7 linked regions of the Homo sapiens genome follow. The protein of the gene in region 4 purifies or fractionates together with the protein of the main gene of each other region. This does not show direct contact. Each region holds a gene or a part of one and is shown on either strand. Other genes may lie near its edges.

The links.
Region 1: the proteins of DUSP7 (region 4) and ACSL1 purify together in Homo sapiens (affinity purification with mass spectrometry, with the first as the bait; one large-scale study listed by BioGRID). This does not show direct contact.
Region 2: the proteins of DUSP7 (region 4) and ERLIN1 purify together in Homo sapiens (affinity purification with mass spectrometry, with the first as the bait; one large-scale study listed by BioGRID). This does not show direct contact.
Region 3: the proteins of DUSP7 (region 4) and ATP2B1 purify together in Homo sapiens (affinity purification with mass spectrometry, with the first as the bait; one large-scale study listed by BioGRID). This does not show direct contact.
Region 5: the proteins of DUSP7 (region 4) and ATP2A1 purify together in Homo sapiens (affinity purification with mass spectrometry, with the first as the bait; one large-scale study listed by BioGRID). This does not show direct contact.
Region 6: the proteins of DUSP7 (region 4) and FAR1 purify together in Homo sapiens (affinity purification with mass spectrometry, with the first as the bait; one large-scale study listed by BioGRID). This does not show direct contact.
Region 7: the proteins of DUSP7 (region 4) and ALG1 purify together in Homo sapiens (affinity purification with mass spectrometry, with the first as the bait; one large-scale study listed by BioGRID). This does not show direct contact.

Annotation. Positions count from the first base shown.
Region 1 is NC_000004.12:184,815,969-184,819,468, forward strand, and holds part of ACSL1 (long-chain-fatty-acid--CoA ligase 1), read right to left. Parts: intron 1-3,500. UniProt on the Homo sapiens protein: Catalyzes the conversion of long-chain fatty acids to their active form acyl-CoAs for both synthesis of cellular lipids, and degradation via beta-oxidation. Preferentially uses palmitoleate, oleate and linoleate.
Region 2 is NC_000010.11:100,183,230-100,187,157, forward strand, and holds the start of ERLIN1 (erlin-1), read right to left. Parts: upstream 2,801-3,928; 5' UTR 2,398-2,800; coding exon 2,285-2,397; intron 609-2,284; coding exon 527-608; intron 1-526. UniProt on the Homo sapiens protein: Component of the ERLIN1/ERLIN2 complex which mediates the endoplasmic reticulum-associated degradation (ERAD) of inositol 1,4,5-trisphosphate receptors (IP3Rs).
Region 3 is NC_000012.12:89,587,549-89,590,693, forward strand, and holds the end of ATP2B1 (plasma membrane calcium-transporting ATPase 1), read right to left. Parts: 3' UTR 501-3,145; downstream 1-500. UniProt on the Homo sapiens protein: Catalyzes the hydrolysis of ATP coupled with the transport of calcium from the cytoplasm to the extracellular space thereby maintaining intracellular calcium homeostasis.
Region 4 is NC_000003.12:52,050,996-52,053,571, forward strand, and holds part of DUSP7 (dual specificity protein phosphatase 7), read right to left. Parts: intron 128-2,576; coding exon 1-127. UniProt on the Homo sapiens protein: Dual specificity protein phosphatase. Shows high activity towards MAPK1/ERK2. Also has lower activity towards MAPK14 and MAPK8. In arrested oocytes, plays a role in meiotic resumption.
Region 5 is NC_000016.10:28,891,988-28,895,487, reverse strand, and holds part of ATP2A1 (sarcoplasmic/endoplasmic reticulum calcium ATPase 1), read right to left. Parts: intron 1,334-3,500; coding exon 1,245-1,333; intron 984-1,244; coding exon 881-983; intron 667-880; coding exon 535-666; intron 1-534. UniProt on the Homo sapiens protein: Key regulator of striated muscle performance by acting as the major Ca(2+) ATPase responsible for the reuptake of cytosolic Ca(2+) into the sarcoplasmic reticulum.
Region 6 is NC_000011.10:13,671,668-13,675,167, reverse strand, and holds part of FAR1 (fatty acyl-CoA reductase 1), read right to left. Parts: intron 1-3,500. UniProt on the Homo sapiens protein: Catalyzes the reduction of saturated and unsaturated C16 or C18 fatty acyl-CoA to fatty alcohols. It plays an essential role in the production of ether lipids/plasmalogens which synthesis requires fatty alcohols.
Region 7 is NC_000016.10:5,078,343-5,081,842, reverse strand, and holds part of ALG1 (chitobiosyldiphosphodolichol beta-mannosyltransferase), read right to left. Parts: intron 3,087-3,500; coding exon 2,965-3,086; intron 2,780-2,964; coding exon 2,741-2,779; exon of another isoform or gene 2,737-2,740; intron 2,096-2,736; coding exon 2,036-2,095; intron 898-2,035; coding exon 787-897; intron 1-786. UniProt on the Homo sapiens protein: Mannosyltransferase that operates in the biosynthetic pathway of dolichol-linked oligosaccharides, the glycan precursors employed in protein asparagine (N)-glycosylation.

The sequences.
Region 1 (3,500 bases), on a different chromosome or scaffold from region 4:
AAATTAGCCAGGCGTGATGGCACACACCTGTAGTCCCGGCTACTCGGAGGCTGAGGCAGGAGAGTCGATTGAACCTGTGGGGGGCGCAGCGGCAGTGAGCCAAGATGGCACCACTGCGCTCCAGCCTGGACAACAGAGACGCCATCCAAAAGAAAAAAAAAAAAGCAGACATGAATGGAATCTAGAAGATAATCACAGGCTATGAGGTTCCCCAGGACTGGACGCAGCCTGCAAAAAACATGGGACCCTGTTCTGGCCTCTGAATTGTGCCTGTCATGTGGAAGACCTCAGTGGTGTTGGAGGAAGCAACAAGTGAAATAGGGAAAAGGTTAACCAGGATTTAGCTCATCGTATTGGGAAGGAGAAGAGAGGTACTGGTGACAACCACGAGACATGAGCTAAAATTACACAAAGAGCTCAGGTAACTATAAAAAGAGGTGACTGGCTCTGGGGAAGCCAAAATCAAAACAAACCTAACAAGTTGCAGAAGATTATAGAATAATGACCAGTGTTTAAAAGACAGAAAGAAAAAGAGACTATGCAGTTCGGCCATTACCTGCTCGGAATGGGTGATACTAGTTTGGGGTCTCTATATTCCCTTTATGTTTCACTTAAAATTTATTATGAAAATTCAAATCTATTCAAAAGTAGACACAGAAGTATAATAAAACTATATTTTATGTACCCGTGACTCCAACTTCAGCTTCAGTAATGATCAACGTTTTGCTGTTTCATTATACCCACTTCTTAAAAAATTACTTTAAGTTACATCCCAACACCCTGTCTCTCAGGTGACATTTCTGAGGCCTCCACGGCTCTATGGTTCTACCGCGTGGGGGTATCATGTGCAGGACAGTAAAACTGACTGGCATGTAGGCTGCATCTTGCCAACTGCCCAAAGGTTTAAACAAAAGGAGGCAACCTGAATATTGACTTGAAGCATCCAACTCAGCATAATACTTAATTATCATGCAAGAAAAACGCCCATATATTCAATTTGCAAATATTGAGGATATGCAAGTCAGCTCCAGCCTCAGGGGATATGATAGTAAACAAAAGAGAAAAAAATAAAACCCTGATCCCAATGAGGCTTCCACACTGCTAAGTTTTGGGACCAGAGACAAAACATACTCTGGAGTTAACCTGACTCTCCTTAAGTCACAGGCCTATTTGACATGAATCACAACCTAGCCAGAGAGCAGTTTCTATTCCCCTTTAATTGACAAATTCTTTCCTTTTTAAAAAATGGCATTCAGAGGTCTCTCATGATACTGGTGCTAGAGAAGGAGTTAACTTTCTGGTTCTCTAGACTTCTGATGATGTACCCCAATAAATAAATGCACCCCTCACATTAAATGCTTTTATCTATAAACCATATACAAGTATTTTCTGACCATTAGAAAACACACAAATATGAATTTAAAAGATGGCCAAAAAATAACTATCCATAGAAGTTCTAATGTTTCTATTCTATTCTACAATCTAATGGATGGTCTAGGCAGCCACTATGGGGCATACACCCCACTCTGGAGACAGTCCTTCCATCTCCTGAGCAGCCCTGCAGCCTCTTTGGTGGCTTGCCTGCCTTGTGTCTCCATCTGTTCCCCACCATGGGCAACAATGCATGAAACTGCTAATGGAGGCACCCTGAAATGCGTGCCACACCTGGGAGGCAGAGGGACAGTGCCTGCAAAAGCCTGCAAAAAGGGACTGTCACATCAAAGAGGGAGGAAAAGACACTCAGCATCACCCAGTGATGAAGGGAAGCATGCCAGAGAGAGCAGGACGCTACTGGTGACCGTCGCCTGGCCTGCCTGAGAGGGTGAAGAGACTGAGCCGGCCTCTCTGCAGGACAGAGAGGCTTGAGGCCGAGACCCACGCCAGGCTCCAGGGCTGGCCTCCTCTGAAGGTCTGTCCTGGACACCCTGAAGCTTCAGCCCTGACCCCAAGGACAAGGATCTTCACCCTGCCTGAACTCTAGGGAGGTCTTGGCATCGGCAGAGTTTGCCTCTGACTCACATCAGGAGAGAAAAGCACAGACTGGCTGTCTTCAGAGTCTAACCTGGGAGTCTGGGCTGCTCAGCCACCCCCTCAAGAACTCAGTTCCGTCCACTGTGAGGTGCCTGGCTGGGCTGCTTGACAGATAAGGTCCCCCGCCAGCTCCCCATCCTGGGATGCCTCAGAAGCTTGCCTGAGGCGCAATGTAGGTAACTGTCCTACAGAAGGAACAATGAGCCATTTGACCATTTCACTAGTGGCACAGAAACAAGGGGCAATTTGAACACAAGAATACCAGGTAAAGGAAGACTACAGTAGAGTTATGTAACATTAGCTGGAGCTCAACACTAATCTCCTCCCCTCTCACACCCTGCAAAGACCACAGCCACCTGCTTCTCCAACACAAGTGAAACTACACGGAAAGAAACACCTCAGATGTACTCCGAAACACAAACTTCACTCAGTGAAAGCACAGGCTTAGGTCCACAGACTTTCGATGCCTTGATCTTGGCTATAAGATCTACGTTTTGCACAGTATCAGAATAGACAAACCTGGAACATTACAATGTATATTCTTGTTAGGGACCACCTTCTATGGGACATCTGACCATCGGAACCTGCCCTACCCTCAATCCATCATTAGATAATCTTACATGCTTACTAGCGGTAAGGCCCTGTATTAAACGCTGCTGAAAACACAGAGATGACAATGACTAGGTCTCCCATGTGCCCAGAGCTTAGAGTGTGGCTGGGGTGCCAATCTGTGGAAGCCAGATATGCACTCATGAAAAGATGCACGTGGGACAGAGGCTGGGATGCTCATCAAAATATTTAATAGCCAGTACGGCCAGACACCAACCAGCCAGAAAAGACACAGGCCAGTGCACCAAAACAGGGCTCCAAAGTTCCTCTACTGCCCCATGTATTAACCCTTTAGTTTCCATATGAAGGGCGGGGGCACTTGGGTAGCAGCTATTCTCTAGCCAGGATGGGAGTATTTCGATATTTTAACCACTAGCATGATCGCTGGTGCATCTACAGCTGAATGACAGTGAGTGTAGGTGAGGAAGGGGAGAGTCACTCCAGGAAAAGTGCCTCTGAGGAGCAGGGCTCTGTGGGACAAGGAATGGCATTCCAAATAGGCCAACATGGGCATCGTACCATTTAGATGTACTTTTTTTTTTTTTTTTTTTGGAGACAGAGCCTCACTCTATACCCCAGGCTGGAGTGCAATGGCACGATCTTGGCTCACTGCAACCTCTGCCTCCCAGGCTCAAGGGATTCTCCTGCCTCAGCCTCCTGAGTAGCTGGGATTACAGGCGCCTGCCACCACACCTGGCTAATTTTTGTATTTTTAGCAGAGACAGGGTTTCACCATGTTGTCCAGGCTGGTCTCGAACTCCTGACCTCAGATGATCCACCTGCCTTGGCCTCCCAAAGTGCTGAGATTACAGGCGTGAGCTACCACACCCAGCCTAGATGTACTCAACACAAACTTTATC
Region 2 (3,928 bases), on a different chromosome or scaffold from region 4:
ATTAGACACTTATTTCAAATATCCCGGGATGCCATCAAAATATAACATTCACTAAGGTTCCACATAAAATTGTGCTTAATATACCAGGCAAAAAAACATGAGGCAGAAAGGCTGTGTATAAAAATTTTGATCCTCCATGTTAACAGTAGCCCAGGAGCCTGCCTCTATGGAAACTAAACACTGTTCTAAACCACATAATCACTGGTTTGTATGTCTAGTTGTGTTTCTAATTCTTACTTTTATTGTGACAGCAGCAACAGAAAATTTGCTATATACCACGATATAGATGGTAGAAGTCAGTCCTTCCAAGCTTCCTGGTTCATACCTTTAATTCATTTCAAGTAAGTGAGGTGGTTTAACATCATAACTTGTGTTGTAACAACTGTACTCTGAACGTTAACTTCTGCATTTAAGTAAATACCACCATCTGCTTAAGCAATAAGGAAATCTATCTCCACCCACAAGTGTGGTAACTCCTGTCATGCCTGTCTATCTGGTATGGAGGCTTCCCCTAGGAATCACTCACCTGCACAGATCTGAACGTAGTAATGAAAGGCAACATGATATGATAGCCTGGTCCACTGGGGCTAGTTAGTAAAGCTCCTCCCCTGCAAAAAGATGTTTCAATTTGACAAAATTATAAAAAGAAAAATTATCTTTCCAAATCTAAAATGCTATAATAAATACTCACTCTTGCTCATGCTGCTGACCTACTAAAGCCTCACTAATATGAATTGCTCATAATGAACAACTGCTTAAAATACCTCCACACCTAAAAAGGGAAAAAGATCAAATTAAACTGCCAATGTTACACCTTGTTTCATAAGCTCAACCAACCGTACCTCTGGGTCTCCAGCACTGCTCTAAGGTTCAAAGGATTCTCCTCGGTCTTTAACCTTCTGAGAAATATTTGTTTAAAAAATTCTAATGGCTTTCAGTAGAGGTACATTAATAGTACATAACAAGAGCCAAATCAAAATATATAATACATTTAATCACCAGGTTGAAAAAAAGACAATGCAAACTTTGAAGTAAAGAGAAAATTTCTGAGGCTTATAATTCTTTCGATCTATCTACAAGGTAATTAAAATACTGGGAACATAAAATTTCTATATAAAAACAAAAAATTAGCATGAAAAGATGAAGGGTGACAAGACTATACAAATAAATAGCATAAGGGCTTGTTAACCAAATCCTGGAATGTGAAAACTATGAAAGCAAGCCCTGGAAATTATAAAAAGGAGGCATTTGGGGAGCAAAGAAAACAAAGTCCTATTTTGCACCTTGTAAATTCATAGAACTTAGCTACCGGTCTTGAAAATATAAACACATTTGCAAGGTCATAATAACAAGGAAAGATGAACTGTTTGAGGTTCATTACTAATTCTTTGAGTCATTCCTTGAAATGTCCTTTCTCTGGTTTTACTGTCAGAAAGACAATGCTTTTAAACTGGAAGGAAATCTGGACTAATCTGTAATTTCTTATGTAGAGCTCCATCTGCTAAGATATACCATTAAAATTGCTCTTTTTCTAGGATTCAGGATGGATTTGAAAGTAGAAATATCAGTTTTGAGGGATAGTGGAAACAAGCAAAAAGTTGACGCTCTTTTTGAATACACCATTATCCCAATTTCTCCACAAACTGGCCTCTCTTACTAGTCTGTATCAAAAGGAACTTGTGGTAATTAGGCTGAAGGAAAAGCTAAGCGAGCTCAACAAGAGAGCAACAGCTCCCACACCACTCCTGTCCCCAACTTGAACAGCAACAGTAAGGAGGGAGGAGCATGGCCCATCAGTGTTGTGCTTATGTCCCTGGAGGTCCAGGGACATAAGCACCATCACAGTCATCATGGTGTTACAAGACGTAACCAGACACTGGAAGCTTTTAAATGAAAAAGTCTAAGAAACAACCATAAACATACAGCATCTACAGCGGCAAACTAAAGCCTGTACAGTTGAACGAACTATAATTTATCCATCTCTTCAGTTAGAGGTAGAGTGACTACTTCCTTTCTTCCTTCTTCATTTTTCTACAAATAATTGAGTTTGCTGTGTATAGGAATAACCGTAGGGAGACTTAATCTCTGCAACAAAACGAACATAGCACTAAAACTGTCCAACATCTGGAGGGTGCTCCGCAAAAGCCCGCTTCGACCCCCGTGCTCTCCCTAGAGATGGGACATGCGCCCCCGAACGTTGCAGAGGGAACAACTTCCCAGACTCCACTCTGGAGTACCCTTTTAATCTGCTCTAGAGCCCTAACTGACTGCACATGCCGCTCACCTGTAGTACACAGCCAGATGGCCCTCCTCAATCTTGTGGATGGAGGCGTAGAGCAGGACAGCCACCAACCCCACCACTGCAGCCACCAGAACCCGGGCTTGAGTCATATTCATTCTCGTTCCTCCTGGGAGCGGGAGAAAAGGACCCTCAGTCCCGTGAGTGACAGGTCCACCCCCTCCAGTTTCTACCCTCTCCCTCCGGAAACTTGGCGCTCTCTCGCAGGCTGAGCCGGGGAGTCCAGTACCCCTGTCCCCTCATTCTTCCCTTCTGGCTGAGCCCGCTGACCCCTTGCCAACTCCTCCGCCCCCGGAGGCCAGTGGGCCGCCCCTGCTCGGTGAGCTTCCTGAAACTCCCTCTCCCAAGGGTCGCTCCCGGGTGGAAGGCACTAACTGAGAAGAAGCCCAGCCGCAGGCTCGCGAGGAAAGCCGACCCCTCGGCCGCGCCTCACCGATCAGTGACGCATCGCCCCCGCCCGCACGTGCAGCCGACTCCCGCGCCGAGCCAACCGCCGCCAACAGCCGGCCCCGCCCACTCGCCCAGCACTGCGGCTGCGCGGGGACGCACACGGCGTAGCCCCGGCCCGCGGCTAGTGAGACGGGGAGCGCATGGGACAAAATTCTCCTAGCCGCGGGCCGCGCAGGCTCCTTTGGAGGCAAGTCGCTTTCTGTACACTGCTGGTTAACTGCTTCGGAAGAGGACAGCCCGCAGTCTGGAGTGAGCAGCGAAGCAGAGAAAAGGAGACGCCCTTTCGGACAAGGGACTGGTTGGTTTGTTCTTGTGCAGAGAACCCACTCGCTCACTCTCAAACGGTAGCTGTTCGGTTTATTTGTCCTTTTGCAGTGTATGCGGAGCCCCACTGTGTGGCACGCACTTGCTTCCGGCAGAGATCCTGCCCTTCAGGAGCAACTAAACTTGTTGCAAATAAAGTGCTGTGAAAGTTCAGAAGAGGAAGATATTAGATATAACGGCATCATTCTCTCGTTTTTTAAGTGTTCCTATTATGTGCCAGAATGCTGGTCCAGTGAGGGCTTTATGAAGGCCATCCAGACTACAGGAACAGAATTGCTAAGCACATGGGGCGGGAGGCGGAGGGAATCCTCCAGGGAGACCAAAGTAAGTACTTCAGTTTCCTTGAAGGCTTGTGTGATGGGAAGGAGTGCTATGGTAGGCGTCACTACATATTCTGTTCGTTTTAAATTAAAAAACCATGGGCACATATTGCCAAAAATAAAAAAGGGAAGGAAAAAGGTATAGTTGGGAGATAGATGAATACAAGAGAAATTAAGGACATTAATGGTTTAAGCCTTGAAAGGCTAGAGGTGGAACTATAACTGGACAAGGTGGACTAGGGTTGTAAAGTCCTCTAACCCAGCGGACGGGGTGGGGGTGTGTGTGGGTTGGGGATGAAACTGTTCCACTTCAGATCATCAGGCATTAGATTCTCACAGGGAGCCGGCAAACCTCACATGTGCAGTTCACAATAGGGTTCGCGTGCCTATGAGAATCTGATGCCACTCGCTAATCTGACAGCAGGCAGAGCTCAAGGCGATAATGCTCACTCGCCCGCCGCTCACCTCCTGCTATCCGGCTTGGTTCCTAACAGGCCACTGTCTGGTTCCGGTCCGCGGCCCAGGGCTTGGGGAC
Region 3 (3,145 bases), on a different chromosome or scaffold from region 4:
AATAATTTACTAATGATTTATACTAACTGAAAAATATGGTATTCATCATCATTTAAAGTTTACTCAGTATTTCAACAAAGTTGCTAGTTTATATTAATAACTTATTATAAAAAACAACTATGGATAATTTTATTAATTTTTACCATAGAGTTCAGATAACTGGTATTGACAAGTATGGATAATGAAATAAAAATAAGCTCTTACAGCTAATGTGAAAAACTAATCTGTACTAAAACCAGCAGATTACATTCCCATAGACTGCAGAAATGATCTATTGTGCTATAAGGGTTGAGGACAGTGGGTTGGAGAGTAGGGACAATGTACCCACTCTCATTTTAGAGGCAAGATCATGCATATTATTAGAAGAGTGATTCACTGTAACACAACCATAACATTTCAAGTACATTATAGAATTTTCAATTAGATTTCTAAAATTTCAAGTAGAAAAAATTCCAAAATATTTTCAAATCAATATCAATATCCAAAAAGTTCAGTCCCCATTCAGAAACAGATAAACAGTATATTTATTAAATGAGTTAAGACAAATAAACTTTACAAATAGACAAATAATAAAAGGCTCAGTGGCTAAAATAGATGGTAAGCATCATTGAAAGAAATCAACACCATCACGGTATCTCAGTTGGCTTACACGTGTAAAAAGAAATTTTCAAAGAGCAATTTCACAGAAATGAAGCCAGTTTTTTTCTTATAAACAAATCACCAATTCTTGGTTCAAAACTGACATCTGTTATGAAAATTACCATATCACATATTTGTAAGATGACAAGGAGTAACTCATCTTCAAAGTGCAAGTAAGTCTATTTACAACCACAAAAAAGGCAATGATGAGGAGAAAAGGATTTTTAAAAAATATACAAAGATTAAAAACATTTGGGATGCAAAATTAAACAATTTTTTGGTTAGAGGATAAAAGAGAAAAAGTGATTGAATTACAGATTTCAGCTATACATACTATATAATGGGATCCAAGATCTTTAACAGCTTGCTTGCATTTTTTTCTACCTACATAATGCTCTGGAAATTTCTGGTAGAAATTACAGTGTCTCAAAGAGAGAAATACACACTAAGCATGTCTTGCTACTACTTCATAGATGTCATAAGACCCGTTTATGGATTAGAGTTGGTGTAGAAAGCCATTGCCTTGAGTTGAAAAATGAATACTGTAAAAGCTCAATACAAATCCTCCAAAGCACATGCACTTCTAAATCTTTTGGTAATTACATTCATATTTAAGCATAACCAAAATAAAAAAGAAAACTGAAAACATTTCCCTTTTCTCTATTCCCTATGCCTTGTGGGCTCTCCAGTTGATAGGGTCAATTTTTAGAGTTGAAAGGGTTCTTCAAGATAGTCCACCACCCTTATTTAGGGTAAATGATTTTCCCAAGATCATGCAGCACATTAATGGCAAAACCAAGACTAGAAACCAGGTCTTGACTCCTAGTCTAATATGCTTTCCAGCATATCATGCTACCTCTTTTTTACAGTATGATTCACTATAAATACCTGATGAATAAATGTACAATTACAAATGCTGACAGAGCCAATGTGTTTCTAAGACCTGCAGAGGATTACTGCAAAGATTTGATGGTGAGAAAAAGATTTCCCCCACCCACCAAAAATATCAAGCACCATCAACTAAATGTTTCTTTGCTTGGTCAGCACTCTCAGTTATAGTAGCAGTCCTCGTAAACTTTATGTCAGCCTGAGGATTGTGTATCTGGTGAAATCTGGGCCCTAACACATGCCAGTTTCTAAAGGGTAAAGACAGAGGCAAAAAAGAGAAGAAGGTAGATGAAGGAAAGAAAAAGAGAGCTAAAGAATCCAATTGGCTTAGAGGTGGGCATTCTAGCATATGGTTAATTATTGCATCTAAATATATCATTTTAGAACCTTTTCATGTAATCTCATTTTACCTAATCTGTTATTTGGCCACTTAAGAATTAAAATAAATGTATCAAAGACAATGGTGGTCATTGTTGTTATGTTTTTTACCTGTGAGACTATTTTAGACAAACTAAATTCAATGAAGAGTATGTCAAATGGTAAAATTGTGTTAATTTTCTTAATCTGATTCTATTAGATTACCAGCAAGGAATTAAAGCGGTACTTCATGGGGCTGTTACCATCTTGAAATGTATTCCAATTGTGGTCAAAGAGAACAGACTGATGCACTGTATATGCAGAACTGAGTAAAGAAGCTGAAATGTCTTTTAAAAAAACATTGCCATGAATTTATTTAATAAAAGGGCATATTTATTTATGTTTACAAACAAGTTTCAAAAACAAAAGGAAAACATGTATGCTTCTACTTATTAACCTTTTTCAAAATGCCAACAGCCCTCATGCTGTGTGAAGGTCTCTAAAGATTAGAAAAATCAATACAGTTCACTCACAGTTCACCAAGACATCACTAAACTAACATGTTTAGACAAAAACAAAAAAGACTAAGGTTCTCTTGTAGTTTGATAGTCTGATTTAATTTGATTTGCCTGAAATAACAAAAGCATTTCAAGCATCTTTCATTATGTAGTTGATGTCCTGCATTAAACAATCTACTAAATTCTGAACAAAAGGTTATTAGCAAGTTTTCAAAAATTTTAAAAATTAAACAGTTGCTTCAAAACCATTAAGTAGTAAATGTATTTAAGAAACTAATTAGGACAGATGTCATAACTTCATTAGAACACCACTGCTCATGTTTTTTTGTTTTGTTTTGTTTTTTTCGTTTTTTTAAACAAAGCATTAGTGTTATCTATTTGGCTATTAGTATTAGCAATTTATCTACAATATTTAACAAGGTAAATTGTAGGCAAAAATTTAGTACAGTTTCAATAGAAACACCCCTTTTTTTTTTTTTCCTGAAAATACAGCAGTATTTGAAGGACTAATTTTTCTCTGCATCAGTTATAAGGAAGCTTCCCATCTATGAACAGGAACAAAAAAAGTATCTACAAACCTTGTAAACAGATCTGTATCATTTATAAACATAAATAATCCAAATTATTAACAGCCAACAGCAGAAATTAAACTATCAATTCAACGATCCAGGGCTCTTTGTCTTGCCCAGTTTTACTCCTCCCTCTCTCTCCCATCCAGGACTGAGATAAACTAAAGCTCTGCT
Region 4 (2,576 bases):
AAGTCGTAGGCGTCGTTGAGTGACAGGTTCATCTTCTGCATCAGATAGGCCACAGTGACCGTCACTGAGCGGCTGATGCCTGCCAGGCAGTGCACCAGGACACCACACTTCTTGGAGCGGGCTTCGTCTGAAACACATTGGCATGGGTCAGGGAGGTGCCTCCTTCAAGGAGCCTTCCCACATGGGTGGGCAGGTGGGGCTGGGGCACAGAGGGCAGCATGGTGGCTGGCTGGTCTTGCCCGACCCCTGAGGGACCTGGCCAAGCCCAGTGTGGGTAGGGCAGCAACTTGGAATAGAGGTCAACAGCACTGCTGTGGAGAGGGCTCTGCACACTTTAGCCCCAAGGCACTGGACACCCGTGTCTGTTTCCTCATCTATAAAATGGGCCTATTTATGCACAGTGGTCTCATAAGGACCTGAGCCAAGTGAGGGGTCAACAAACATGAACTACTGTAATGCCTGTGATCATGGCTAGTCCTACCACTGCCATGTGCGTTAACGACTGCTGTCACGGGTGTCACCTGCATCCTCTTGGGTCATCTGCACCATGGCCAGTAAGCCCATTTTATCAACGAGGAAACAGACACAGAGACAAAGTGGCAAGCCCAAGGCCACACAGAAGCTCCTCCTAGCTCAGCGCCCGCTGCTGCCAGGCCATGACCTGGGACTGGGGGCTGGGCTGGTTCTCTTGGAGCCGCTCCCATGGGTTGTCCCTGAGAGTCTTCTAGGAAAGTGGCCTGAGGGAGGCTCCTCTGGAAGGAAGTAGGTGGCCTGGCCCTGCATTTCGCTCTGCCATCTGCCCAGCTAGTCCCCAAGGCCTTAACTCCAGCTCCTAAGACACATGGACTGGGATGATGGCCACACTATCACTTGTGATGGGGCTTCATAAGTGAGGTGTGCTTAAATGGGCCCCACCCCTGCCACTTGCTAGACCTTCCTCAGGAGGCCCATGTGTCAGTGATATCTCCTACCACAGCTGACTGGATGGGGCCAACCTTCCTGTCCCCTTTCCCCTCCAACCCTCCCAGCTTCCCCCAGTGCCACCCTCAGACTCCTCTGTCTGACACATAGAAGCTCAATAAATACTGGCCGAGCTACTGAACAACTCAGTCCTGTAATCTCTCCTGGACCCCGGGGCAGCTGCCTCTCTGTGTGCCACAGCTGTGCCAGGGACATAGATTCACAAGAGGCAGCCATGGGGTCCTTGATGTCCCCACCACCCTGACTCTGAACCCTCCAGGAGCCAGGCACACAGCTAGCACGCAATCAATGCCTTCCTACAAGATGACATACGGGTTCACCCACTGTTCTTCGTTGCCTTTGTCCTGACAGAGCTTCCTCTCCCATCCCCTCCCAACCAAGGAGTAAAGCATACAGTAGGTGCTTCCTCCAGACTCAGGGACTGACAGGGGGCCCCATGGCTAAGGCACTGGGGCAGGATCATCTGGCAAGGAGACAGACATTGCAGCTTCATGAGGAGCTGTGTGGTCAGACCTCGAGATTGGGGGTGGGAAAAGGGGGTGCTGGGACCAGCCTCCAGTGGTGACACCAGGATGTGAGGAACGCCTGGCCTCCAAACCCACCTCCAGGTGATCCAAAGACAGTCTGTTTCTGCTGGCTTTATTTTTGGCCTTTTCAGGGTGTAGCTGGTGACTGATCCTGTCCCACTGACTCCTAAGGGATGCCTGGGCCTCAATTCCTTCACTTGTCAAATGAGGAAAAAGGTCCCCCTACCCAGACGGGGAGGAGCTTTCAGGAAGGATAAAGGTACCCACTAGCCAGGCCCAGCCTGGCGAAGCCTGCTTCCCTCTCTCTATTCCCCTCCCTCGTTGGGGGAGTTCAAATGCTGAGGCAGCACCCCTAGCCCTCTTGACCCAGGGGGTGGTGGGCAGGGCTGAGAAGCTCCAGGCAGCCCCAGTTGCAGCCCCTCCCCCAGGCCTCAGCTTCCTTCCTTCCTCCCAGCCAGGCACCTACTTTTGGTTCCCAGTAAGCGGATGAGGCGGGGAAGCCTCCCACTTCCTGTTGTTAAAGCTAGCCCAGCCCAGCCGACACCAAAACGCCCTCCACTGGACACAGCCACCATCGGGAAAAGACAGCCCGGGCCACCCCCACACCTTGCCACTGGAGGCTGGGCAGAAACATTGGGTCACCAGGCTCAGAGATAGAGCGTTTACATTCATCCTGAGCCCTCGTGCCCCTTCCTTGCACCCTGGGCCAGGGGAGATGACCTGTGGTCTCAGCCTCCAGCTGGCCAAGGAGAAAGCAGTGGGGACCCGAGTCTGCTGAGGCTGGGGATACAGGGACTCGAAGGGCACTAAGCCAGACAGCAGGACACACTGCTCTGGGGAAGGCCTTTCTCCACTCCCCCACCTTCTCTTGCACTCCTCCCTACACTCCAAGCAAGCCCTACAGGCTGCAGAGAGCATCTGGAGGCTGACTGAGCTAGCAGTCACCACATTTCAATAGCTGCCTGTTTGGGGTGTGCCTCTGGCTCCAGGGCTACCTTTCAGCCCTCTTAGGTCCACATTAAAGCCCAAAGAGGCACTATGACAACCCCATCCTGGAGAGACACGTGT
Region 5 (3,500 bases), on a different chromosome or scaffold from region 4:
GAGAGAAAGAGAGAAATGTGGGGAATATAATTCCCCAGAGAGAAGTGCTTAATGGAGACGTTCAGCAAGTATCAATAGCAATAACTGGGAGTGACAGTCCTAGAAGTGGCCGGGTTCATCTGGGCAAGGAAAGGCTTTCCCTATAGGTGCAGTAGCCACATTTCCCAAATCCTAAGTCAGGACTCATCATCTGCTGAAAACAAGTGTGCTTCTAGAAACAAAGGAATAACAGATGAAGTTGGGGCTGCTCCTGGATGGGTCCCTTGTGGTTTCCGTGTCCAGCTTTGTCCACTTCAAATCAGGACACAGCGGGCAGAAGTGATCATAGATTCATCAAGGGCATGGCCGCCAGGCAGCCCCAGGGACAATGGGTCCCACCCACATCAGCCTGTGGAGAAGCTGCAGGGGCTGTCTGCTGCCTGGGTGGGGTCCCAGCACAGGCACTAGGCTCTGCCCAACCAGGGCCTCTGCCTTCCTCTAGTCTATGCAGCATAGAGTGGAGACGGCCCTGTGGCAGGGGCTCCGCAGGCTCACCGAGTTGCAGGCGTTGGCTCTCTCCACCTTCGAGAGGCTTCTCACATCCGTGTTGAACACATTCATCTTCTCCACCAGGGTGGTGAGTGCTGTCTCGGTGGCCTCGCCGACCTTCTCATAGACACCTTTGGCCTGAGATGGGCAGAGGAGGAAGAGGAAGTCGGTGCCCCAGGCTCCTACCTGTCATACCCTCCTTCCACCTAGCGTAAGAAGGAAGCAAACCACTGCCTCCCTTGCACCCTGGCAGAGGGCTGGGTGTACTGGGTCCCCTTCCTCCAACCCTTTCCTCCTGGCCTTCGGAGGAGGCCCAGACTCTGAGCCAACTGGAAGGGGAAGGAGAGGTTACCTCGTTGAAGTCCAAGGAGGAGTCATTGCAGAGGGCACAGATGGTGGCCAGCTCCACCAGCCCGTCATACTGCCCTGGCCGGACTGGCTTATCATTCTTCAAGCTGGCAGCAGGGTCAGGGGAGGAAGGGACAGAGACAGTGGAGAAGAACAGGGAATGAGATGCAGAGAGGGCACAGGAAGAGCAGGCAGCAGAGGGTAAGGAAGGACAGTGGGGAGAGCCAACTCGGATATCAGGAGAGAGAACAAGGTCGGGGAGGAAGAGGAGAGTGAAAGGAGAGCAAAACCACATGGAGGGCCCCAGGGAGAAAGGGGGTGTGGGAAGGGGCGTGAGGAGCTGGGGAGAAGATGCCTGGGTGACTTACACCTCTCCCTCTGGAGCGTAAGTGGAGCCGGTGATGGAGAACTCATTCAGGAGGCAGATGTCCCCATCCACCTTGTCAATGATAAACATCTGCAGGGGAGAAGGGCAGGCACACAGATGTCCACCTCTTCCCATCCCAAGGTGGGCACCTGCATCAAGGGAGGCCTGCACTGCCAACACCTACCTTCCCACCATTTCCCTCCTACTCACCCCTCCTCATCCCCCCCGTATACCCTACCCACTTCCCACCAAGCTGTTGCAATCATTCTCTATCAACAGCCTTAAAACAATAGTTACTGAGGCTGGGCGAGGTGGCTCACACCTGTAATCCCAGCACTTTAGGAGGCTGAGGTGGGCGGATCACCTGTCAGGAGTGCAAGACCATCCTGGCCAACATGATGAAACCGTCTCTACTAAAAATACAAAAATTAGCCAGGTGTGGTGGTGCGCGCCTGTAATCCCAGCTACTCTGGAGGCTGAGGCAGGAGAATCGCTTGAACCTGGGAGGCAGAGGTTTCAGTGAGCCAGGATCGTGCCATTACACTCCAGCCTGGGCGACAAGAGCCAAACTCAAAAAAAAAAAAAAAAACAAAAAAAAACCCACAAACGAGTGACCGCAGGCTGTGCTGTGCTGGAGCTTCTGTAGACCAGTTAATAAAATAAGATGGAACACAATAAGGTATGGTGGGGACTGTGGCAAACAGCCCAACTATTGGCACCTGGACCATCTACAGCTCCAGCTGCATGTGGCCAGATCTTCCAGTTTTGCAGGAAGAGCTAGAAATTCAGGTTATCTTCCTATGAAATCTCTTGACTTTTTCTTTTTCTTTTTGTTTTTTAAGATAGGTTCTTGCTCTGTTGCCCAGGCTGGAGTACAGTGGTGTGATCATAGCTCATTGCAGCCTCAACCTCCCGGGCTCAAGTGATCCTCCCACCTCAGCCTACCCAAGTAGTTGGGGCCACAGGCACATGCCACCATGCCTGTCTCTCTTGCTCTCTCTCTCTCTCTTTTTTTTTTTTTTTGGTAGAAATTGGGTCTCACTATGTTGCCCAGGCTGGTTTTGAACTCCTGGGCTCAAGTGATCTTCCTGCCTTGGCCTCCCAAAGTGCTGGGAGTACAGGCACCCACCATGATGCTGGGAGTACAGGCAACTACCATGCCCAGCCTCTTGACTTTCAAATATATGGGCAATTCTTTTTTTTTTTTTTGGAGATGCAGTTTCACTCTTGTTGCCCAGGCTGGTGCAATCTCGGCTAACTGCAACCTCCGCCTCCTGGGTTCAAGTGATTCTCCTGCCTCAGCCTCCAGAGTAGCTGGGAGTACAGGCATACGCCACCACGCCCAGCTAATTTTGTATTTTTAGTAGAGACGGAATTTCGCCATGTTGGCCAGGCTGGTCCCGAACTCCTGACCTCAGGTGATCCACTCACCTTGGCCTCCCAAAGTGCTGGGATTACAGGCGTGAGAATTAATTCATTTTTATGAAACATGACAGGAGCCAAGTCACACGAGCCTGTGGTCTGGCTTTGTGGCCTGTGCGTTAGAGGGATGTGGAGAACGCAGTGCCCAGGAGGAGTGGCCTACCCTGAATCCTGGGCAAACGCAACAGAGACTGGGCTTTTCATTCCCGAGAAGAGAGATGGTTAAGATGGGTTCCAAGACAAAAAAGTTCTGTGGTCAGAAAAAAAACTTGGGAACCTCTGGGGCAAAGCAGAATCCGTCTTCTTTACACAGTCAGCCTCCTCTAAGGCTTTCAAATAGCAGCAGATGTTGTGGGTCTCGCCCAGGAGCCAAGGTTACAGCCTTTCTCACCCTGATCTGACCACACAGCCCTTGCTTCTCAGAACAGCAATTTCTAGTTCATGGGTGTAGTCTTCCACAAAACTCTGTGAAGGGCAGGGGTTCTTGGCCTGAGGTCAGTGGAAGACCCTGCAAGGAGCCCAAGAACTGAGATAGCCAAGAAAAAAACGACAGCTTTTCTTGTTCTCAAGCTGACGTTTGACATTTCCTTCCAGTTATGCATGTTGTCAACAGACCACATTAGTATTAGCAAAACCTGTGACTGTCACCAATTTAATCACAGATACTTTCCTCCTATCACATTACCACTGTTGCAGATCTCTCAAAATAGCATAATTTATGCTCACCACTGCTTCAACATTATGATAGTGCTTAGACCCACTGCGAGAACTCCCTAATTAATGCCTTAATAAAGAAGCATGTGTGTTGCCAAATTACAAAGTTGTTTTTAAAAAT
Region 6 (3,500 bases), on a different chromosome or scaffold from region 4:
GCTCAAGTCTCAAAATATATTTATATGAACAAATTTGCACCTCACTTGGATTAACATGTCTATTATTATACTTATCACACTGCATGGTAACAACTGGTTAAAAAAAAAAAAAAAGTCTAGGGATTTGCTTCAAAATAAAGAAGGAAGTGGATGGAGGTATGGATGAAGCAAGACTGACCACAAGTTAGTAACTCTTAAAGTTGGTGATGTGTGTATTATTGCTGTCAATTTTCCATAATACAAAGTTTAGAAGCTTGCCTCTCCTACTAGTAAGAGGGCTTCTTAAAGACAAGTTCAAGAGTGTTCTTCTTTGTACATCTATCCAATACAGAACAGACCAATTGAACTTTACTAAACACGTTTCATTCTTTAGGTAGAACTACTTTTCAATGAAACTTCAACATCTTTTTGACGGTACTTTATTTAAAAAATTTTTCATTAGCTCAAATAAAACATATATTCACTCATTCATTATTTTCTGGGTCCCTGCTTCCTAAGATATGCTGTCCTGGTAAATGTAGGATACCAAAAATAATTTATCCTCTCTACTAAATTAAGAAGGGAAAGAAGGAAGATTAAAAGAAAATATTGTAAAATGCAGTAATACAGTTTTTAAGAAAGGCATCTAGGGCATCTATGTTTTTAATTAGAAAGAAGGCATACAACCTATTCAAGGAAGACGGGCTTAAAATTTCTCCTCCCCCTCCATTTTACAGATGAGGAAACTAAAGCCCATAGAGGGGAAGTGACTTGCCTAGCAAGTTACACATCAAGTAGCTAACAAAACCAAAATTAAAGCTCAGATCTGCTGATTCACAGTTCAATTTGAATTTTCTTTTTTTCTTTTTTTTTTTTTTTTGAGACGGAGTCTTGCTCTGTTGTCCAGGCTGGAGTGCAGTGGCGCTATCTTGGCTCACTGCAACCTCTGCCTCCCGGGTTCAAGCAATTCTTTTGCCTCAGCCTCCCGAGTAGCTGGGACTACAGGTGGGCGCCACCACGCCCGGCTAATTTTTGTAGTTTTACTAGATGGGGTTTTCACCATATTGGCCAGGCTGGTATCGAACTCCTGACCTCATGATCCGCCCACCTCGGCCTCCCAAAGTGCTGGGATTACAGGCGTGAGCCACCGCACCCGGCCCAATTTGAATTTTCTACATCATAATGCTTTTCTGTACACTGTAATGTTAACTAATGAAAGAGAATGAGTTATTTTATTGGTAGTATATATTTCAATTATTTATTAAATCATATTTAAAAAAATAATAGGATAAGATGGGGAAGGCTGGGAAGAAAAAGTGCACAACAAATTGGTAAGATACTTATGTGTGAAAACTACAGGCATATGCCATGCTTCATCAATTTTGAGATACATTTAAGACATAGTAACCATTTCACAAACATTTTGAAGTAAATATAGACAATATACATCTTCAAAAAATTCTAAAATATGAAAACATACATCTCTAAAGCAAGAAAATATAAGGTATCCTATTAGACACTAAAAAATCACTGTCATTTATTTAGAGGCAGTGTCACAGAGCACAAACACTCAGAGCAAGAGTCTCATCTTCTAAGGTAACAAATACCTAAGGCTTGTGGCATTTTTTTTCAGTTGAAGGTATAAATCAGTCCTCCGTGCTATTAGTTTCACAAGCATGGAGTTTTGGAGTTAGACAAAGAAAGGTTTGAATCCCAGCTCTGTCACTTAGCTCTCCAACCTTGGAAAGTTACTAACTTCTCTGAGTCTCACTCTCCTCATCTGTAATATGGTATTCACATTTTAGAGAATTATATGAGAATCAAATGTGGTAATTTGTTGAAGGATTATGCTACAGTGCCTAGATGAAATAGGAATCACATTAATATCGTTTCCTCTCAGAATCCCTATGGGCTAAGTGAAATTAAACTAAAAGCTAGATGAATTTACGCAACTCTTTCCTCTCTGTTTAGGAGACTGTAATAAGTCTGTACTGATCCTAGGGCAAATCCTATTGGTTTGGGAATCATTCTTTGAATAAGAAAAGCTTATTTTCTTGACTTCTGTCTCCACTCTTCAAATTGGGAACCGAAAACAATGGTGAATTTATAAGTGTTTAAGTTGATCAGCTATATCTAAATCCAGCACTTCCATTTTGTCTTACTGAACTGAAACTCTAAGCCTGTTGCAAACCCATTAATGAGAGGAACTATAGAACCAATGTGTAGGAAGAAGGATATAAAGCCAAAAGAAGCAGTTAAAATGACACAATTCTATCAGTGGTTTGTTGGGTTTTTTTAAACCTTAAATTCATGTATTAAACTCTAAGAAAACAAGTGTTCAGGAAAACAAAGACTGTATCTCCACCATTCAGGGTGGGTTAGTAACTTGATCCTTCAGGTTAAGCAAATACCACCTTTCAGTACATACAGTTTCAGTTTCCATCAGTGACAATCCAGTCATTTCCAAGATAGGAACACACCTACCAAGGTGGCTCTTACCAAGTAGGGACTGAAATAAGACTATCTTCTCTCCTACCCCAAGTTCAGACTAGCCTACCCACATTTTCCTGAGTATTAGCTCATTTCAGTTGAATGCTTGTCCCCACTAATTATAAAAATAATGCTCACTTTTTTTTTTTTTTTTGAGACAGGGTCTCACTTTGTCACTTAGGCTGGAGTACAGCGGCATGATCAAGGTTCACTGCAGCCTCAACCTCCCAGGCTCCCATCTCAGCCCCCCAAGTAGCTGGGATTACAGGTGTGCACACCACCTTGCCCAACTAATTTTTTTTTTTTTTTTGGATAGAAAAGGGGTTTTGCCATGTTGCCCAGGCTGCTCTTGAACTCTTGAGCTCAGGCGGTCTGCCTGCTCATTTTTTTAAATTTGAAAAAACTAAAAAGTGCAAGCATTTTAAAGCATCCATGATCTTCCAGCCAAAGATTAAAACATTACAAGGGGTCATACCATCATCTTTCCTATGAATCTGACCATAACTGTGAAAATATTTAAATTTGTATAGAGTACCTGCCACTAAACACAATTAACTACCAGCCCAAACATTAATATCTTCATTCCAGCTTTCTTGTGACTAAATTCACATTACTTTTTTACTTACTTAACTCAATGGTTTCTTCTCAATCGTTCTGAGTCTCTCAGCTATATACTTTGTTGCTAACCACCACCTCTTTAAAACTCTATCCCAGGTTTCTCTAAACAGTGTATTCCTCAGTATCTACAGAAATCTCTCCAACTAATCTTTTTCTTTCTTCACTGGCTCTTCTTACATAAACTGACAATCTCTAGAAAATAGATGAGGTCTGACTTGAATTTTCTTGTCAATATTGAACACCCAGCACTTACTACAGTGCCTGGCATCAAGCAGATGCTCAATTAACATTTACTGACTGATTCTGCCAATCCTGACCTGTCCCCTCCTAGCTGTGTGACCTTGGGCAAGTTATATCTCTCTGAGTCTTATCTCCCTCATCTATAAAATACAGATAATCAGAAGATGAGATAA
Region 7 (3,500 bases), on a different chromosome or scaffold from region 4:
CACCTGGAATCCAAGCACTTAGGAAGGCCAAGGCAGGAGGATCACTTGAGGTCAGGAGTTCAAGACCAGCCTGGCCAACATGGTGAAACCCTGTCTCTACTAAAAATACAAAAATAAGCCAGGTGTTGTGGTGGGCTCCTGTAATCCCGTAATCTACTCGGGAGGCTGAGGTGGGAAAATCGCTTGAACCCAGGAGGCAGAGGTTGCATGAACTGAGATCATGCACTCCAGCCTAGGCAACGGAGCGAGACTGTCTAAAACAAAGACTAGGTGGAGAGTCCTGCCAGGAAAAGGCCTTCAGCCTCCAACTGCTCTGCTCACTCGAAGCTGGAAGATGCAGCTCTAGAGACGCATCAGGACCAAGGCACGACTCCCCACTTGGAGAAATCAACGGGGAAAGAGACGGAGGCAAAGGAGAACCATCTCACTGGGAGAGGCGACGCTGTTTGACACATCGTCCCCGTACCTCCCAAAGCCACTGCCCTCCCACACCTGGGCAACAGTGGCCCCAACCCCAGGCCCAGCCCTCCTGCAGGAAGGAAGAGGACTGAATGGAGGGCGTGGCAGGCTGAAAGGACGTGGCCTCCTCAAACCCCTTGGTAAACGGCCCCTGGGGCCACCTGGCAGGGAGGGGCTGGCACACCAGGAAGTAGCCTCCTCCTGGGAGTTCAGCCAGAGCCCAGGTCCCGTCCCCCAGTGGCCTCCAGAGCCACCTTTTCAGAAAAAGTACATCCCGCCCACCCTGTTCCCCCCGCCTCCTCCCTGAGCCTCCTGCTGGCCTCTCACCTAGAAGCAGGGGGTAGTCCTCGGCCTCCAGCCAGGGGGTGCAGACCTGGATGTGCTGGAAGTGCTTCTGGTGGATGAGGCGGCTATAATACTCCCTCAGAGGCCCTTTGCCTTCACAGAGAAGAGCAGACACTGCCATGGACCCATCTCTGTCCCTGCCACGTGGCCCCAGGCCCAAGACACTCCCCCCTAGGAGGGATCCCTTTCCCAGAAGCTCCACCCCTCAGCAGCTCCAGTCAGGCCCCATCCGGGCCCTTCCAGAAGCAACCCAGGAGCCCTGAGACCTGCAGGGGTGTGTGCACCCTGACCCCTGACGCATAGCCTTTCACCTGCAGCCAGCTGGCCTCGGGCTGCAAACATGGCGGGGTAAGCACTGGCCTGGCACCCGACCGCCCACTGGGTGGACCCAGCCTTTTGTCTGTGTTGTGCACAGGGGACACGAGGACTCCTCCTGCCCTGGCACAGCCCCCAGAGCATATGGCGCGGGTTCCAAACCACTCCTGGGAGCCTAGAGGCCAGAGGAGGGAGGAGAGCAGGACCAGCAGCTGGCCCAGACCCGGCCTCTTCCCACACCGCTTCCGCTTTTCTCCCTCCTCACTGAGTCACCTTGAAAGGGCTCAGCAGCAGTAACTGTGGGACAGGGGCTCTTCCGTTTGAAAAATTAAGAGGCTTGGTTAAGGCACCAATGACATGGCCGGGCACAGTGATTTGTGCCTGTAATTCCAGCATATTGGGAGGCCAAGGCGGGTGGATCACCTGAGGTCAGGAGTTCAAGACCAGCCTGGCCAACATGGTGAAACCCTGTCTCTACTAAAAATACAAAAATTAGGCAGTTGTGGTGGGCACCTGTAGTCCCAGCCACTCGGGAGGCTGGGGCATGAGAATTGCTTGAATGTGGGAGGCGGAGGTTGCAGTGAGCCGAGATCGCACCACTGCACTCCAGCCTGGGCGACAGAGACTCTGTCTCAAAAAAAAAAAAAAAAGACACCAATGACGTAACAACAACAAAAAAAAGATGCTTGGAAACTACTGAAAAAGTAGAAAGCTTGGTATCTACAGATTCAAATCTGGGCTCCCTGCCCTGCCTCTGAGCCTCAGTTTCCCCCATGTCAAGCAGTATAAGACCCTATGGCAGAGCTGCAGTGAGGATTAAGGAGACAAGATCATGGGAAGCACAGGGTAAAGGCTGCGTGCCCCTCCCCCTCCGCCATCCCCCAACCAAACAGACACCCAGGGTCCCAGGCAGTACCTGTTATCACACAGACGAGAGAAGGAAGGTTGTGTCCATCAAGAGTCAGTTGTTCAAACTCTGTGTTTAGAAAAAGAAACAATTCTACATGGAATTTCTGATAGAATTTTTTTTTTTTTCTGACAGACTCTCACTCTGTCACCCAGGCTGGAATGCAATGGCGCGATCTCAGCTCACTGCAACCTCTGCCTCCTGGGTTCAAGTAATTCTCGTGCATCAGCCTCCCAAGTAGCTGGGATGACAGGCGCCCACCACCATACCTAGCTAATTTTTGTATTTTTAGTAGAGACAGGTTTCGCCCTGTTGGCCAGGTTGGTCTCGAACTCCTGACCTCAGATGATCTGCCTGCCTCGGCCTCCCAGAGTTCTAGGATTACAGGTTTGAGCCACCATGCCCATTCAGAAAAAAATTTTTAAATAAACAATAGCCAGAGTCACCTGGTCAGGTGGAGAAAGAGCACTGCTCTGGCGGGGAGGCCACCAGCCTGTGTGAGATACTCTCCTGGAGGGGGCATTTCAGCCTGAGGGCCTGGTCACTCAATGACCCAACTGGGGATTCAGGGCGGCCCACTTCCACCACCCCCGCTGTCCCCAGGCTGCCCCACCCAGTGGCCTGGGACAGGAACATGCTGCAGGCCAGGCAAGCAGCTTACAGCTCAGTGGCCCCCGACAAGCCCAGAGCTCCTCACCGCAGCCACACACCTACTTTCTAAAGCTGCCAGCAGGATGGAGAAGTCTTCGTCCTCTATGAGAAGAGAATTGAATGTCAGGGGCCTGTTTCTAGACACCCCTCTTCCAGCTCACAGGCCCTCCCGTTCTCATTGAGACCGTGGCAGGGTGGGAGCATGCAGGACTGGCAGGGGTGAGGAGAACACAGGTTGGCCAGGTGCCCGTCACACCAACCCCAAGTGCCCCAGGGGTCCTGCAGACCTGTCCAGCTCGTGCTGCTGACCAGCAGGGCTGGCCGCTCACGGAGACGCGTCACCAGCCCGCTCCCAGCATCCCGCTCCGTGAAGGCCGACCGCTCCGTGACTGGGTCCTCAGGTTCTGAGCTGAAGGAGCAGAAAAAAAGCCTGTGAGAGGCCATAGAGCAGGCCCGGGACCCAGGAGAGGCATCTCCTGCCGTGGCGAGGCCTGCAGGCTCCCAGAGGTTGGGGTGCCCAGCCACATCAGCAGCACCAGGCCACCCCTGCCATCTGAGGCCTGGGCTTGCTTTCTCTAATATTGTTGCTGGGTGCTAAGGTTACAACAGCAAACAAGACTGACTCATTCCTTTTCTCCACGGGACTTACTGTCTTATCATCCCCTGGACTCAAGATGAGGGTGCAGGGACGCCCTCCCACACCACCCCAGCTTACCCAGGGCACACCTCAGGGTGCGTAGACCTGCACAAAGGTCCCCTCCTTAGCCCCATGAGACACCCCAGGGGACACACAGGTCCACAGATCCTGCCACAGGCCTGGGAA